Homo sapiens: one gene and its partners. The protein of the gene in region 3 purifies or fractionates together with the protein of the main gene of each other region. This does not show direct contact. Each region holds a gene or a part of one and is shown on either strand. Other genes may lie near its edges.

Region 1 (4,426 bases), on a different chromosome or scaffold from region 3:
ACTCTTTAGAAAGTCTTTGAGTGAACCCAGCGGTATGTTATCCTGCTTTGAAAACTGCCACAATAAGTCACCAAAACACGTAATGTAAAATACGAAAGTGGTGGCAAAGATCACCTGACAGAATGGTCCACTAGAGACAAATGGCAGTAGTGAAGGAGTCTGTGTGTGTGTGTGAATGTGTGACATTTATTATGGGTGTTCTTTGTGCTGAGCATTTCACTGTTGTTTACTTAATCATCACAATTTTGTGAGATGCATGTCTTATTCCTGTTTTAACAAGGACAAAACAGGTGCACAGAGATTCAGTAACTTGGACAAGCCCTTAGTTGACAAATGGGATTTGATTCTACATCTCTCTGACTTTAAAAGTTGTGCTTTCCCATTATAAGATGTTATCTGCTATTACATTATATATTTCTATTAACTATACAATTCCACTTTTGTGCACATAGTGGTAACACGGTATATAATCAATTTGGACCAGCAGTAAAAATATGGAAAAGAGAAACGTACTATACATAAATAGTGGGGTTTAAAAAGTCAACTTTAGGGCAATAATTCCTATAGTTTGCAGTATGCTAAATGGAAGAGAGTACATGCCCACTATTGATCAAGGCATAGTATGTAGTACAAACTCACCATCACATATTTACATACATCTACATTGACATTCCCTGACAATTTAGAATGTGCCAAGCTCTGTACTCAACATTTTACATATATTGTCTCATTTAATCCTCATCCCTGTAACTGCAATGGTTTTTCTCATTTAACAGATGGAGACATTGAGGCGTGGGGAAGTAACTTCTTTCCCAGTTATACACAAGTTAAGAAGTGGGATTTGAATCTTAGTAGTCTTTTTTTTTTTTTTTTTTTTTTTTTTTTTTTTAACAGGGTCTCATTATGTCACCCGGGCAAGATCATAGCTCACTGCAGCCTTGAGCTCCTGGGCTCATATGATCTTCCTGCCTCAGCCTCCTCTTGAGTAGTTGGGACTACAGGCATGAGTCACCATGCCCAGCTAACTTTTTAATTTTTCCTTGGTAGAGAGGGAGTCTCACTATGTTGACTAGGCTGGTTTTGAACTCCTGGCCTCAAGCAAGCCTCCCACCTCGGCCTCACAAAGTTCTGGCCTTATAAGCATGAGCCACTAGCCTGGGCAACAGAGTGAGACTGTCTCTAAAGAAACAATAAAATAAATAAAGTATGGAATAATAAAATTTTAGTGAAAACTGTCTTGTTAGAAATAATGGCTATGAAAGTAAATTCGCAATGGAAGAACCTATAATTGGGAACATTTATTATGGACAAAATACGGATTGATAAAGTCATCATTAAAATATTTGAGTGGAAACTATTCCCAGTGAAAATTGTTTCAATGACATGAAAGTGAACATGGAAAAAATGGAAAATGTTTTAACCCTCCTGTATGGAAAATTGATCAATGAATTAAATTGGCTTGCTTGAGTTTATTGCAGAAAACGTTTTCCAACCAAAAATGATGTGTTGTTAGTATAGGGACCGTACAACTGGTTTAAGCCAATATGGATACATTATTATGAACTAAAGTCCTTACTTTTTTCAAGGTTTCCTTAGTTTTTACCTAATGTCTTTTTTTTGGTTCCAGGATCCCATCCAGATACATTTAGCCCCCTTGCCTCCTCAGGCTCCTTGAGGCTGTGACATTCTGTTAGACTTACCTTGTTGTCGATGACGTTGGCAGTTTTAAGGAGTACTTTGAGGTCAAGTACTTTGTAGAATGCTCCCCAATTGGGATTTGTCTGATATTTTTGTTATGATAAGACTGGGATAATGGGGTATTGGAAGGAAGACCACAGAGGTGAAGTGCTGCTCTTGTCACACCTATCAAGGGTATATACTGTCAATCTGACTTATCACTGTTGATGTTAACCTTGATCACCTGGCTGTGATAGTGTTTGTCTGGTTTCTCCACTCTAAAGTTACTCTTTTTTTTCTCTCTCTCTTTTCATCCTGTACTTTAAAAAATCTTCACATTCTCAAGGAGCTCCACGTTTTTTCCCCATCAACTTCCCTTGCATCAAGGACTTTGGGAGAGGGTTAAGAGAGCTGGGGACTGAGCCCCTGTGCTTTTAGAGTGTTTGTAACTGTGGCCTGGTTTATAATGTTTCTATAGATGTTTAATTATATTTACATCTAGAATAATATAATCTGAAAATTTGAAAGGGAAATTGATTATGCTGTGTATAGATGCTTTGATGCTTTACCAGCTCTCAGGGGAATACTAATGACACTCCTAGAAATGCATTGTGACTATCTGTTGGTATACATGTGCTTAGAATTTTTTTTTGACTGAGTTTTTTTAGAATAAGAGTAGCTTATTTGACTACTGATGACACAGAATTCTTTCAGTGCCACTTTGCCAGCCAGAAATCTCCACGGCTAGTGGCACCTCTGCCCAGGCTTTGCTTGGGCCCACTGGGCTTACTCTGCCCACTTGGCCCAGCAGACTGCGCTCAGGCTGTGCTACTGGTCTGGATCCTGCGCTTGCCTTGGCTCTGTGGTCAGCCCGCAGCTGGTCCAGGGGTGCCGTGACCAACTTCTACCTTGGATGCTGGTGTCTGGATGAGGGGGATGTGGCAGTGCCCAATAACTTGGAGATGCCAGCAACCACAGAGCCCCAAGGTGTGTTACAGCTTTTGCTTGGGGAGTCCTGAGGCCTGAGCCTCCAGAAAGTGTTACACTGTCGTTCATTTCTGCTGTCTGCAGCTTCAGTGAATGGGAGCGTGTCACAACTCATTGGGTCCTGCTGCCTGCAGCTCAGCAAATGGGGGCATGTTGGCACACAATGGTTTTTTCACTCCTATAGCTCGGCGAGCATGAGCATATGTTACAGCTCTTTTTGCACCTGCCATTCGCTCTTGTCCCATGACCAAGAGGAATGAGGTACGCGGACACTGGAGAGTGAACAAGGCAGAGAAGAATTTTATTGACTGACAGAAAAGCTCTCGATAAAGAGAGGGGACCCGAAGTGGGTAGCCCTCTGTGTGAGAGGGGGCCTGAAAGTGGATAGCCATCTGTAAGGCTGAGTCTGGGGTTTTTATGGGCTCAGAATGGGGTGTATGCTAATTGTTCCATGGGTGGGCCTGGAAAAAGCACCATTCAGTTGGCTAAAAGGCATCGAGGAAGTTCTCACTCTGGTTGTGGACTCCACCTGGAACTGGCAACTCGGTTTCAGGTTTCACTTGAAGGTCTGGTTTCACCGGAGACCTGTCCCTGTCTACCGAGGAATTTGTCTGTTTCCTACTGCTATAACTGAGATGAATACCATATTTCTTAAATATTGCTTAAAATGAAAACTGGGATGAATTATTAAATGGCTTTGTCAGATAATGCATGATTTAGAAGTACACATTTTTCTTACATAGACAAGTAAATGGAAAAGCTGTGTTTTAGAGGTTGAAAATATTAAGTACCACCATTAAAGTCAAGAAACATAAATATGGTTAACTCTAATTCCCTCTCCTGTCTTTGTTCTTATAGTATTTTATTTATAGTAGTTATACTTTGTGTTTATCCTTTTAATCATTCTGCTTTCAGCTACAGTTATCTGTGTACACTTGTATGTGTCTCTCACTAGAAAATAATGACAGTATTTTGAAGGTCAGGCTGGTGGCTTGTTTTCATATCCCCTACACGGCTACGCCTCTAGTGGGTCCTTCAAAAGTGAACTGAATTAAATTGAAGTATTTGGGGATATCTGGCTTGGAGAAGAAATTGTAGTGTGATGGCTGTTTTAACTGTTTGAAAGATGCCGTGGTGTATGGCTCCAGGGAACAGAACCTGGACTGATGGTGAAAGGTTAAGTAAGGCAGAATTTTATTCCACATAAGGAAAGCTTTGTAACAATTAAAGATATTTACAGTCATTAAGGGCTGCTTTGTAAGGCAGCATATAGATCACTTCCTGCATTCAAAATTGACACATGCAGTCAGATCCCAGGATGAAATGGTAGGTTACAATATAAAAAATAGGATTTTACATGAAAAGGTGTTGACATTTAAAACTCATCACAGGTTTCTTTAAATATCAGTGTGTGTTTGTCAATTCAAAGTATGATTTACTTTGCAAACATTCCTCTCAGGGTTTCTCACTGACACCTCTTTCCACAAAGTGAGGTACAGTTGTAGTGGACTGGACCTTGACTGAGCAGCATATCGTGCTGGAGTCTTTTATCACCAAAAGGGCTGATGTCTGCCCCAGTTTCCAGAGCAGAGTGTCTGTAAAAAACCTGCATGTGTCATATCAGCTTTCCTTCTCTTCAGCAAGTGAGGTGGAAAAAGTATGGGGAGGCCACGAAAGCCCATAGATAAATCTCCTACAGAAGCCCTGTCCCAAGAGGGCTGTGTTCCAGCCAACACTGATAAAGTGCAGAAAAATGTCTCCA
Region 2 (3,994 bases), on a different chromosome or scaffold from region 3:
TGGGGTTTGATCCAGGCCCATTTGCGTTTTGCAGGAGGCCTGTGACCACCTCCCATTAGCAGAAGGATGGCTCCATTTGAGACAAGGCAAACTTTGTCATGCTCTGTTGCTCATGTGGCAAAGATCCTCCACTCAACCAGTTTGCCCCTGGCCCCCTGCTGATTAAAACACAACCAGTAGCAGCGAGGGATAGAATTTGGAGTTTGAAAATCATACTCTTGAGGAGGCATCTGTGAGCTTTCTAGGGTCCTGGAAATGGGTCCAGTTTGGCTTTTTTTAGAGGAGATTTCAACTAAATTCCACAGATTTTTTTTTTTTTGAGCACCTACTGTATGCTAAGCACAGGCCCTGACCTCCAGTAGCTGAAGGTCTTACATGTCCAAGAAAATGCAGTGTACAATCAGATGCTAGATTAGGAGTTATCTTCAAGAATAAACATCTATTGAGCACCTACTACATGCTAGCATATTAATAGTAAATGAGATTATGTATGTCAGGAGTCACAAACTCCAACAGCTCCATGTGTCAGGCAGGTAGCACAAATGAGTAAAGCAGGCAGGGGCAGACAGTGGGGAACTGTGGAGTCTGTGCGGAATCAGAGCACATGCCTCATTTACAGGAGACACTTTCTTCTCACCTTCAGATAATTATTGGCGGGCAAGATTAGGGGCCTAGGCAGCTGCCATGGTTCACACCTGTCATCCCAGCACTCTGGGAGGCCAAGGCAGGAGAACTGCTTGAGCGCAGGAGTTTGAGACCAGCCTGGGCAACATAGTGAGACTCTATCTCTACAAAAAAATTTTAAAAAACATTAGCTACACATGACGGCGCATACCTGTAGTCCCAGCTACTGGGGAGGGTGAGCAGAGAGGATCGCTTGAGCCCAGGAGTTTAAGGCTGCAGTGAGCCGTGTTCATGCCGCTGCATTCCAGACTGGGTGACAGAGTGAGACCTGGTCTCAAAAAAAAAGAATGGGGCCTGGTGTTGTTAGATATTCTATATTAGATATTCTAGTTTTTTTAAAGGAAGCCAGAAATCTGTACTTCTGTGTGACTTTTTGGATGTTTACATGTTGGCAAGTTATTCAGATTTAAAGACAAAACAAAACAAACTTGTGAGAGTCAAATAAAACCCATCTGTGGGCCTGACAGGACTGGATATATCCTGTTTTGCCACCTCTGGTACATGGAATGTGCTTAGTTTGATGCTTGTGTTAAGTGGAGTTATTGTTTTTAATAATAGCATATGTTATCTGACTTAATGCTCACTGCAAGCCCTAGAAGGTTGATAATCTTTATCCTCATCTTAGAGATGAGCAAACAGGGAATAAAAGAGCTTATTTCACAGCCATTTCCCTTCTTCCACTCCCAGAGGGGGCTCTTCTGGGCTTTTGTTGTGTTTTGGTTTTGTTTTTGTTTTCTTTTCTTCAATCAGCTCAGATTGAAACAATTGAATTTTTTTTTTTTTTTTTTTGAGACAGAGTCTCCCTCTGTCGCCCAGGCTGGAGTGCAGTGGCGCGATCTTGGCTCACTGCAAGCTCCGCCTACTGGGTTCACACCATTCTCCTGCCTCAGCCTCCCGAGTAGCTGGGACTACAGGCGCCTACCACCACGCCCGGCTAATTTTTTGTATTTTTAGTAGAGACGAGGTTTCACCATGTTAGCCAGGATGGTCTTGATCTCCTGACTTCGTGATCTGCCCGTCTCGGCCTCCCAAAGTGCTGGGATTACAGGCGTGAGCCACCGCGCCCCGCCACAGTTGAGTTTTTTTTTTGGCGGGGGGACAAGGTCTTGCTCTATCACCCAGGCTAGAGGCACAATCATAGCTCACTGCAGCCTCGAACTCCTGGGCTTAAGCGACCCTCCCACGTCAGCCTCCTAAGTAGCTTGGACTACAGGAATGTACCACTATACCCAGCTAATTTAAATATGTTTTTCGTAGAAATGGGGGTCTCTCTATGCTGCCCAAGCTGGTCTCGAACTCCTGGGCTCAAGCAATCCTCCTGCCTCAGCCTTTCAAAGCTCTCTTCTCGTTTAAAAGCTTCTTCCCTATGCCAGGCAGAAATTCAAAGTTCCCAGGAACCTTCTGTGTGCCAGAATGTCAGGATAAGGGGGTCACGGTCTCTTCTTTCTCTATCCCAGGTCACAGCTACTTCTTCAAGGGTGCCTATTACCTGAAGCTGGAGAACCAAAGTCTGAAGAGCGTGAAGTTTGGAAGCATCAAATCCGACTGGCTAGGCTGCTGAGCTGGCCCTGGCTCCCACAGGCCCTTCCTCTCCACTGCCTTCGATACACCGGGCCTGGAGAACTAGAGAAGGACCCGGAGGGGCCTGGCAGCCGTGCCTTCAGCTCTACAGCTAATCAGCATTCTCACTCCTACCTGGTAATTTAAGATTCCAGAGAGTGGCTCCTCCCGGTGCCCAAGAATAGATGCTGACTGTACTCCTCCCAGGCGCCCCTTCCCCCTCCAATCCCACCAACCCTCAGAGCCACCCCTAAAGAGATACTTTGATATTTTCAACGCAGCCCTGCTTTGGGCTGCCCTGGTGCTGCCACACTTCAGGCTCTTCTCCTTTCACAACCTTCTGTGGCTCACAGAACCCTTGGAGCCAATGGAGACTGTCTCAAGAGGGCACTGGTGGCCCGACAGCCTGGCACAGGGCAGTGGGACAGGGCATGGCCAGGTGGCCACTCCAGACCCCTGGCTTTTCACTGCTGGCTGCCTTAGAACCTTTCTTACATTAGCAGTTTGCTTTGTATGCACTTTGTTTTTTTCTTTGGGTCTTGTTTTTTTTTTCCACTTAGAAATTGCATTTCCTGACAGAAGGACTCAGGTTGTCTGAAGTCACTGCACAGTGCATCTCAGCCCACATAGTGATGGTTCCCCTGTTCACTCTACTTAGCATGTCCCTACCGAGTCTCTTCTCCACTGGATGGAGGAAAACCAAGCCGTGGCTTCCCGCTCAGCCCTCCCTGCCCCTCCCTTCAACCATTCCCCATGGGAAATGTCAACAAGTATGAATAAAGACACCTACTGAGTGGCCGTGTTTGCCATCTGTTTTAGCAGAGCCTAGACAAGGGCCACAGACCCAGCCAGAAGCGGAAACTTAAAAAGTCCGAATCTCTGCTCCCTGCAGGGCACAGGTGATGGTGTCTGCTGGAAAGGTCAGAGCTTCCAAAGTAAACAGCAAGAGAACCTCAGGGAGAGTAAGCTCTAGTCCCTCTGTCCTGTAGAAAGAGCCCTGAAGAATCAGCAATTTTGTTGCTTTATTGTGGCATCTGTTCGAGGTTTGCTTCCTCTTTAAGTCTGTTTCTTCATTAGCAATCATATCAGTTTTAATGCTACTACTAACAATGAACAGTAACAATAATATCCCCCTCAATTAATAGAGTGCTTTCTATGTGCAAGGCACTTTTCACGTGTCACCTATTTTAACCTTTCCAACCACATAAATAAAAAAGGCCATTATTAGTTGAATCTTATTGATGAAGAGACTGATGGCTCAAGAGAAGTGATTTTTCCAGGGTCCCATAGCTATTAGGGACCTACAAGGCCAAAGGATAGCCTAGCAGAGGAGCTTTAGCTCTCAAACCAGAATCTCACCACCCTCCGCCACCCTCAAAAACACCCCCACCACCTTCAAAACCGCTCCTGCTACCCTCCACCACCCCCAAAACCACGCTGGGTAAACACAGCTAAGGGAGAAATACTGTGCTTGCTTCTAAACACAGCTGGTATTAATGGATAAGCTCCTTACTCCTTCCTACCAGTCTACCCACTCCTAATCTCCTACATAGAAATTCTGGAGCTACTGCTGAACAGAAATTGAAGGCCTGGGGTTTTTCTGAGGCCCTTTCTGGCTCCGATAGTCTGATTGATAGTATATATATTGCTTCTGGCCTCTTATGATGGGGCTGGTGAGGAAGGTGCGTAAGGAGTGAACTCTACAGGTGACCTCCTCAGTGAGCCTGATGTCATTGTTTCTATCTCTTTT
Region 3 (4,426 bases):
TTCCTTCTAAGCACTGCTTTAGCTGTGTCTCAGAGATTCTGGTATGTTATGTCTTTGTTCTCATTGGTTTCAAAGAACTTATTTATTTCTGCCTTGATTTTGTTATTTACCTAGTAGTCATTCAGGAGCAGGTTGTTCAGTTTCCATGTAAGGTTATGCGGTCTTGAGTGAGTTTCTTAATCCTGAATTCTAATTTGATGGCACTGTGGTCTGAGAGACTGTTAGGATTTCCGTTCTTTTGCATTTGCTAATTAGTGTTTTACTTCCAATTATGTGGTCAGTTTTAGAATAAGTGTGATGTGGTGCTGAGGAGAATGTATATTCTGTTGATTTGGGGTGGAGAGTTCTGTAGATGTCTATTAGGTCTGCTTGGTCCAGAGCTGAGTTCAAGTCTTGGATATCTTTGTTAATTTTCCGTCTCATTGATCTGTCTAATATTGACAGTGGGGGTTAAAGTTTCCCACTATTATTATGTCGGAGTCTAAGTCTCTTTGTAGGTCTCTAAGAACTTGCTTTATGAATCAGGGTGCTCCTGTATTAGGTGCATATATATTTAGCATAATTAGCTCTTCTTGTTGCATTGATCCCTTTACCATTGTGTAATGCCCTTCTTTGTCTCTTTTGATCTTTGTTGGTTTAAAGTCTGTTTTATCAGAGAATAGAATTGCAACCCCTGATTTTTTTTTGCTTTCCATTTGCTTGGTAAATATTCCTCTATCCCTTTATTTTGAGCCTATGTGTCTTTGCACTTGAGATGGGTCTCCTGAATACAGCACACCAATGGGTCTTGACTCTTTATCCAATTTGCCAGTCTTTGTCTTTTAACTGGGGCATTTAGCCTGTTTACATTTAAGGTTAATATTGTTATGTGTGAGTTTGATCCTGTCATTATGATGCTAGCTGGTTATTTTGTCTATTAGTTGATGCAGTTTCTTCATAGTGTCGATGGTCTTTACAATTTGGTATGTTTTTGCAGTTGCTGATTCCAGTTGTTCCTTTCTATGTTTAGTGCTCCTTTCAGGAGACCTTGTAAGGCAGGCCTGTTGATGAGAAAAATCCCTCAGCATTTGTTTGTCTATAAAGGATTTTATTTCTCCTTCATGTATGAAGCTTACTTTGGCTGGATATGAAATTCTGGGTTGAAAATTCTTTAAGAATATTGAATATTGGCCCCCACTGTCTTCTGGTTTGCAGGGTTTCTGCAGAGAGATCTGCAGTTAGTCTGAAGGGCCTCCCATAGTGGGTAACCCAACCTTTCTCTCTGGGTGCCCTTAACATTTTTTTCTTCATTTCAACCTTGGTGAATCTGATGATTATGTGTCTTGGGGTTATTCTTCTCAAGGAGTATCTTTGAGGTGTTCTCTGTATTTCCTGAATTTGAATGTTGGCCTTTCTTGCTAGGTTGGGGAAGTTCTCCTGTATAATATCCTGAACAGTGTTTTCCAACTTGGTTCCATTCTCCCCATCACTTTCAGGTACATCAATCAAACATAGGTTTGGTCTTTTCACATAGTCCCATATTTTTTGGAGGCTTTGTTCATTCATTCCTTTTCATTATTTTTTCTCTAATCTCATCTTCATTCTTTATTTCATTAAATTGATCTTCAATCTCTGATATCCTTCTTCTGCTTGATCAATTCGGCTATTGATACTTGTATAGGCTTCATGACGTTCTCGTGCTGTGTTTTTCAGCTCCATCAGGTCATTTATGTTCTTCTCTAAACTGGTTAATCTAGTTAGCAATTCCTATAACCTTTTTTCAAGGTTCTTACCTTTCTTGCATTGGGGTTAGAACATGCTCCTTTAGCTTGGAGGAGTTTGTTATTACCCACCTTCTGAAGCCTACTTCTGTCAATTTGTCAAACTCATTCTCCGTCCAGTTTTGTTCCCTTGCTGGCGAGGAATTGTGATCCTTTGGAGAAGAGGTGTTCTGGTTTTTGGAATTTTCAGCCTTTTTGTGCTGGTTTCTCCCCATCTTCGTGGATTTATCTACCTTTGGTCTTTGATGTTGATGATCTTTGGATGGGCCTTCTGAGTGGACGTCCTTTTTGTTGATGTTGATGCTATTCCTTTCTGTTAGTTTTCCTTCTAACAATCAGGCCCCTCAGCTGCAGGTCTGTTGGCGTTTGCTGGAGGTCCACTCCAGACCCTGTTTGCCTGGCTATCACCAGCAGAGGCTGCAGAACAGCAAAGATTGCTGCCTGTTCCTTCCTCTAGAAGCTTTGTCCCAGAGGGGCACCCGCCAGATGCCAGCCAGAGCTCTCCTGTATGAGGTGTCTGTCAGCCCCTGCTGGAAGGTGTCTCCCAGTCAGGAGACACGGAAATCAGGGACTCACTTGAGGAGGCAGTCTGACCCTTAGCAGAGCTCAAATGCTGTGCTGGGAGATCTGCTGCTCTCTTCAGAACCGGCAGGCAGGCTGAAGCCACATCCACAGCTGCCCCTTCCCCCAGGTGCTCTGTCCCAGGGAGATGGGAGTTTTACCTATAAGCCCCTGACTAGGGCTGCTGCCTTTTTTTCAGAGATGCCCTGCCCAGAGAGGAGGAATCTAGAGAGGCAGTCTGGCTACAGCGGCTTTGCCGAGCTGTGTTGGGCTCTGCCCAGTTTGAACTTCCTGGTGGCTTTGTTTACTCTGTGAGGGGAAAACTGCCTACTCAAGCCTCAGTAATGGTGGACGCCCCTCCCCCTACCAAGCTTGAGAGTTCCAGGTCAACTTCAGACTGCTGTGCTGGCAGTGAGAATTTCAAGCCAGTGGATGTTAGCTTGCTGGGCTCCATGGGGGTGGGATCCGCTGAGCTAGACCACTTGTCTCCCTAGCTTCAGCCCCCTTTCCAGGGGCGTGAATGGTTCTGTCTCACTGGCATTCCAGGCACCACTGGGGTATGAAAAAAAAATCCTGCAGCTAGCTCAGTGTCTGCCCAAATGGCCACCTAGTTTTGTGCTTGAAACCCAGGGCCCTGGTGGTGTAGGCACCCAAAGGAATCTCTTGGTCTGTGGGTTGTGAAGACCGTGGGAAAAGTGTAGTATCTGCTCCAGAGTGCACTATTCCTCACGGCACAGTCCCTCATGGCTTCCCTTGGCTAGGGGAGGGAGTTCCCTGACCTCTTGTGCTTCCCAGGTGAGATGATGCCCTACCCTACTTCTGCTCGCCCTCCGTGGGCTGCACCCACTGTCTAACCAGTCCCAATGAGATGAGCCACGTACCTCATTTGAAAATGCAGAAATCACCTGCCTTCTGCATTGATTCACTGGGAGCTGCAGACTGGAGCTGTTACTATTCGGCCATCTTGAAAGCTGAACCTAAATCTTTTTTTTTTTTGAGATGGAGTCTCGCTCTGTCGCCCAGGCTGGAGTGCAGTGGCATGATCTCAGCTCACTACAACCTCTGTCTCCCAGGTGCAAGCGATTCTCCTGCCTCAGCCTCCCAAGTAGCTGGGATTACCGGTGCATGCCACCACGCCCAGTTAACTTTTTTGTATTTTTAGTAGAGCGGGGGGTCTCGAGTCCTGACCTCCGATGATCCCACCCGCCTGAGCCTCCCAAAGTGTGGGATTACAGGCATGAGCCACTGCACCCGGTGATCTGTCAGCCACTTTCCTTGTCCTCTACAGCTAATCACCCAGTTCTGTGCCTGTGTTTTACACACAAAAACCTGCACATATTTATAGCAGCTTTATTTATAATTGCCAAAAGTTGGAAGCAACCATGATGTACCTCAGTTGATGAATGGATTTGGCTGGGCCTGGCTCCCCTCTATCTAACCTGGGAAGTGGAGTGTGATTGTGTGTGTGTTTGTTAGTGGAAGGACGTGTGGTTTCTCTCTGCATGGATGAATGAGTGTATTTGGAGGGTCATGGTGCTGAGAGACTGCAACTGGGATTCGGTCTGTGGGTATGAGTGAAGATTATAAGTGTGTAACCCCTCACATGTGTACTGTACTTTACACTTTAAGTGGCAGCATAGTGCTTAACCATGGCAGCAGCAGTTAACACATAGACTCTGCAGCTAGATTTCTTGGGGTTCAAATTCTGCCTCAATTCTGTGTGACCTTAGGCAAATTACTTAACTTCTCAGTGCCTCAGTTTCCTCACTTGTAACACAAGGAAATATTAACAGATCCCTCCCCTTCTTTTAGGATTATTGTGAGAATTAGAAGAGTTAATATATGTTAGGGGCTTGATACCTGGCATGTAATAAGAGCTAATTAAGTGTTCACTGTTATAATTTCTCATAACTACAGAGTAGTTTGATATTTCAGGGAGAAATAATATATGTTTGTTTCCCACTGCTTTCACAACAACCCTATGTTGTAATTAGCACTGTTCCACTGGCACCTAAAGACACGGAGGCTCTGGGAGATTTCTGGCCCTAGGCCACGAAGGCCCACTTGGGACTCAAGCTGAGGTCCTGTGATTCCATTTGGGAGCA
Region 4 (4,426 bases), on a different chromosome or scaffold from region 3:
ACAGCCCTGCAGGGCCAGGCTACCCCCGGCCCTCCACTGGCGACTCAGGGCTGCTGGCCCTTCCGTGGCAGGACCCACTCGGCAGCAGTTCACAGTGAGCAGTGGCGAGAGCCCACCGCTGAGCGCCGGCAACATCTACCAGAAGAGGCCGGTCCTGGGCGACATCGTGTCAGGGCCTGTGCTCAGCTGCCTCCTCCACATCGCCCGCCTGTATGGGGAGCCTGTCCTCACCTACCAGTACCTGCCCTACATCAGCTACCTGGTCAGTCGCTGGTTTGGCAGGCCCGGGGCTGGGAAGGCTGAGGACCTGAGGGCCGGCCCGGGCTCTCTTGGTGCCAGGGGGTCTGTGGGGCTGCCCGGCCCTCATCTGCTCGGTGGCTCTAGGTGGCCCCAGGGAGTGCCTCAGGCCCCAGCCGACTGAACAGCCGTAAGGAGGCGGGGCTGCTGGCCGCGGTGACGCTGACTCAGAAGATCATCGTGTACCTCTCAGACACCACACTCATGGACATCCTGCCCCGGATCAGCCATGAGGTCCTGCTGCCCGTGCTCAGCTTCCTCACCTCCCTCGTCACGGGGTAGGCCTCTGCCCCAGCTGATGTAGGGGGACCGGCCCAGCGGAGGGGCTGCCCAGGAGGGGGTGGGAAGCTCAGGGGAGAGGACGTAACACTGGACTGGGTGTCAAGAGTCCTGGTTTTGATCCCGGCTGTGTGACCCTGAGCAAACCACACCCTTTTCCTGTGCCTCAGTTTCCTCATCTGGTTTGGACCAGTTGGTCTTGGAGCTCTTTCATTTAAAGCTTTTGATATGTCCGGGCACGGTGGCTCATGCCTGTAATCCCAGCACTTTGAGAGGCTGAGGCGGGAAGATTGCTTGAGCCCAGGAGTTCAAGACCAGCCTGGGCAACAAAATGAGACCCCCTCTCTAAAAATATATATAAAGGCCGAGCGTGGTGTCTCACCCCTGTAATCCCAGCACTTTGGGGGGCCAAGGCGGGTGGATCACGAGGTCAGGAGTTTGAGACCCACCTGGCCAACATGGTGAAACCCCGTCTCCACTAAAAATACAAAATCTTCGCTGGGCATGGCAGCAGGTGCCTGCAATCCCAGGTTCTCGGGAGGCTGCAATCCCAGGTTCTCAGGAGGCTGAGGCGGGAGAATTGCTTGAACCCAGGAAGCGGAGGTTGCAGTGAGCTGAGATCACGCCATTGTACTGCAGCCTAGGCGACAGAGCAAGACTCTGTCTCAAAAAAAAAAAAAAGTATATATATATGCTGGGTGCTGTGGCTCATGCCTGTAATCCCAGCACTTTGGGAGGCCAAGGTGGGTGGATCGCTTGAGGTCAGGAGTTCGAGACCAGCCTGGCCAATATGGCAAAACCCTGTCTCTACTAAAAATACAAAAAAAATTAGCCGGGTATGGTGGCTCATGCCTGTAGTCCCAGCTACTCGGGAGACTGAGGCAGGAGAATCGCTTGAACCCGGGAGGCAGAGGTTGCAGTGAGCCGAGATCGCACCACTGCACTCCAGCCTGGATGACAGAGCAAGACTCCATCTCAATAAAAATAAAAATAAATAAAGATTTTGCTAGATTCTGGTCAAGTCCTGCAGAACGGCGGGCTGGAGCTCATGAGCTCTGTTTCCAGGTTCCCAAGTGGGGCCCAGGCTCGGACCATCCTGTGTGTGAAAACCATCAGCCTCATCGCCCTCATCTGCCTGCGCATTGGACAGGAGATGGTCCAGCAGCACCTGAGCGAGCCCGTGGCCACCTTTTTCCAGGTCTTCTCTCAGCTGCATGAGCTTCGGCAACAGGTGGGCAGATCTGCTGGGCCAGGGCGGGCTGGGGCGGGGGCTGTGGACCTGGGTGACCCCCTGGGCATCTTGCTCATAGGATCTGAAGCTGGACTCCGCGGGCCGTGGCGAGGACCAGGGTGGGCCAGGGTGGGAGCTGTGGACCCGGCTGACCCCCTGGGTGTCTTGCTCATAGGATCTGAAGCTGGACCCTGCGGGCCGTGGTGAGGGCCAGCTGCCACAGGTGGTCTTCTCTGATGGGCAGCAGCGGCCCGTGGACCCCGCCCTGCTGGACGAGCTGCAGAAGGTGTTCACCCTGGAGATGGCATACACAATCTACGTGCCCTTCTCCTGCCTGTTGGGTACTGCCCCATCACGTTCCCCATCACAGTCTTCGTGGCTGTCTCCTCCCTTGGGAGGCCCCATTCTCTGCCCTTGCCCCAGAGTCAGCAGTGGGTTCTAAGAGCCAGCAGGATGGGTGAGAGCAAAGGGATTTGGCCTCAGACCCCTACCCCCAAGGTGACACACAAACAAGGACTGAGCAGTAGCCAGCAAGAGAGGCCCAGAAGCTGGCCTGTAGTGTCCCTGGGGAAGGCAGGAGAGTCAGGGAGGTGGACTGGCGGTCCGCAGGAGCTGGCGAGAGGGAAGGAGTGGCCTCCTGTTTACGAAGCTTCCCCTCTGGGCCCTGCACGGTGCTGTGCTGATCGTTTCAGCGTGTCATCTCCCTGGAGAGGACAGACAGCCTTGTGGTTACACCTGTTATCATCCTGCCACTGAAATCTAAGCTTGGGAGGCCAGGGCACCACCTGTCTTGTTCCATATTCTATTCCTAGTGCCCAGCACGGCACGGCACATATAGAAGATGCTCATGTGTACATCACAACGGAATGAATCCACATTTCACTGAGGAGGAAACTGAGGCTCAGAGACAGAGTTACTTGCCCAGAGTTGCAGAGCCAGTTCCTGCCCCATCTTCTGTGGCTCCCGAGTCCTTGGATGGGTGATAGCAGCCGCCTGCCATCTTCCCTGTCTCAGGACCTCTCCCACTCCTATCCAGGTGACATCATCCGGAAAATCATCCCCAACCACGAGCTGGTTGGGGAGCTGGCGGCGCTGTACTTGGAGAGCATCAGCCCCAGCAGTCGCAACCCTGCCAGCGTGGAGCCCACCATGCCCGGCACCGGGCCCGAGTGGGACCCCCATGGTGGGGGCTGCCCTCAGGATGACGGCCACTCAGGGACCTTTGGGAGCGTCCTGGTGGGGAACCGCATTCAGATCCCCAATGACTCTCGGCCTGAGAACCCCGGACCACTGGGCCCCATCTCGGGGGTGGGTGGCGGGGGCCTGGGCAGCGGGAGCGACGACAACGCCCTGAAGCAGGAGCTGCCGCGGAGCGTGCACGGGCTGAGCGGAAACTGGCTGGCGTACTGGCAGTACGAGATCGGCGTGAGCCAGCAGGATGCCCACTTTCACTTCCACCAGATCCGCCTGCAGAGCTTCCCGGGCCACTCGGGGGCCGTCAAGTGCGTGGCACCCCTAAGCAGCGAGGACTTCTTCCTGAGCGGCAGCAAGGATCGTACCGTGCGCCTCTGGCCGCTGTACAACTACGGCGACGGGACCAGCGAGACGGCCCCACGCCTCGTCTACACCCAGCACCGCAAGAGCGTCTTCTTCGTGGGCCAGCTTGAGGCCCCGCAGCACGTGGTGAGCTGTGACGGGGCTGTGCACGTCTGGGACCCCTTCACAGGTGAGCGGGCCCAGGTGAGGCCTGTTCTCTTCCTGCTCCTGCGCCCCACCAGGCCTCCAGGAAGGGGGCCCGAGGGTGGGGCTGTAATGCTGCGGAGTTTGGGGAGACCCAGCGAGGCCGCCTAGGAGAACAGTTAGGGCTTCGAATCTGTTAGACTTGAGTCTGAATTGGCTCCACCGGCTTACTTGCTGAGTGACCTTGAGCAAGTTCCTGCTGCTGGAAGCGTCTCCTTTCCCATCTATAAACTGAGAATCAGAAAAACTGGCGTAGAAGATAACACACAGCCGGGCGCAGTGGCTCACGCCTGTAATCCCAGCACTTTGGGAGGCTGAGGCGGGTGGATCACGAGGTCAGGAGATCGAGATCATCCTGGCTAACATGGTGAAACCCCGTCTCTACTAAAAATACAAAAATTAGCCGGGCGTGGTGGCGGGTGCCTGTACTCCCAACTACACAGGAGGCTGAGGCAGGAGAATCTCTCAAACTCAGGTGGCAGAGGTTGCCGTGAGCCGAGATCGCACCACTGCACTCCAGCCCGGGCAACAGAGCGAGACTCTGTCTCAAAAAAAAAAAAAAGAAGAAGATAACACATGTAGGGTTTTGGCTTCATGTGTAGCAGATATTTGGTCAATGGTTGCTTATTTTTTGGCGTCACCATAGGGAGAAATATGGTTAAAAGGGGGAAAGGGATGGTGTCGGGGAAGACAGAGGGAGGTGGCATTGGGTCAGCAGCACTGTGCAGAGAGAGGAGGTTGCTTTGGGGATGGGAGCCTGGCCGGGCCATGGAAGCAGGAAGGTGGGAGAGTCAAGAAACATCTTTAGGCCGATGCAGTGGCTCACGCCTGTAATCTCAGCACTCTGGGAGGCCAGGAGTTGGAGACCAGACTGGCTGA

Evidence for each region.
Region 1: the proteins of WFDC2 (region 3) and ACYP2 purify together in Homo sapiens (co-immunoprecipitation; one study listed by IntAct). This does not show direct contact.
Region 2: the proteins of WFDC2 (region 3) and MMP2 purify together in Homo sapiens (co-immunoprecipitation; one large-scale study listed by IntAct). This does not show direct contact.
Region 4: the proteins of WFDC2 (region 3) and WDR81 purify together in Homo sapiens (affinity purification with mass spectrometry; 2 studies listed by BioGRID and IntAct, with this or other methods). This does not show direct contact.

What each region holds. Positions count from the first base shown.
Region 1 is NC_000002.12:54,118,195-54,122,620, forward strand, and holds part of ACYP2 (acylphosphatase-2), read left to right. Parts: intron 1-4,426. UniProt on the Homo sapiens protein: Its physiological role is not yet clear.
Region 2 is NC_000016.10:55,503,198-55,507,191, forward strand, and holds the end of MMP2 (72 kDa type IV collagenase isoform 1 preproprotein), read left to right. Parts: intron 1-2,141; coding exon 2,142-2,245; 3' UTR 2,246-3,494; downstream 3,495-3,994.
Region 3 is NC_000020.11:45,475,327-45,479,752, forward strand, and holds part of WFDC2 (WAP four-disulfide core domain protein 2 precursor), read left to right. Parts: intron 1-4,426.
Region 4 is NC_000017.11:1,730,684-1,735,109, forward strand, and holds part of WDR81 (WD repeat-containing protein 81), read left to right. Parts: intron 1-71; coding exon 72-262; intron 263-384; coding exon 385-575; intron 576-1,641; coding exon 1,642-1,807; intron 1,808-1,982; coding exon 1,983-2,148; intron 2,149-2,843; coding exon 2,844-3,533; coding exon of another isoform or gene 3,534-3,547; intron 3,548-4,426. UniProt on the Homo sapiens protein: Functions as a negative regulator of the PI3 kinase/PI3K activity associated with endosomal membranes via BECN1, a core subunit of the PI3K complex.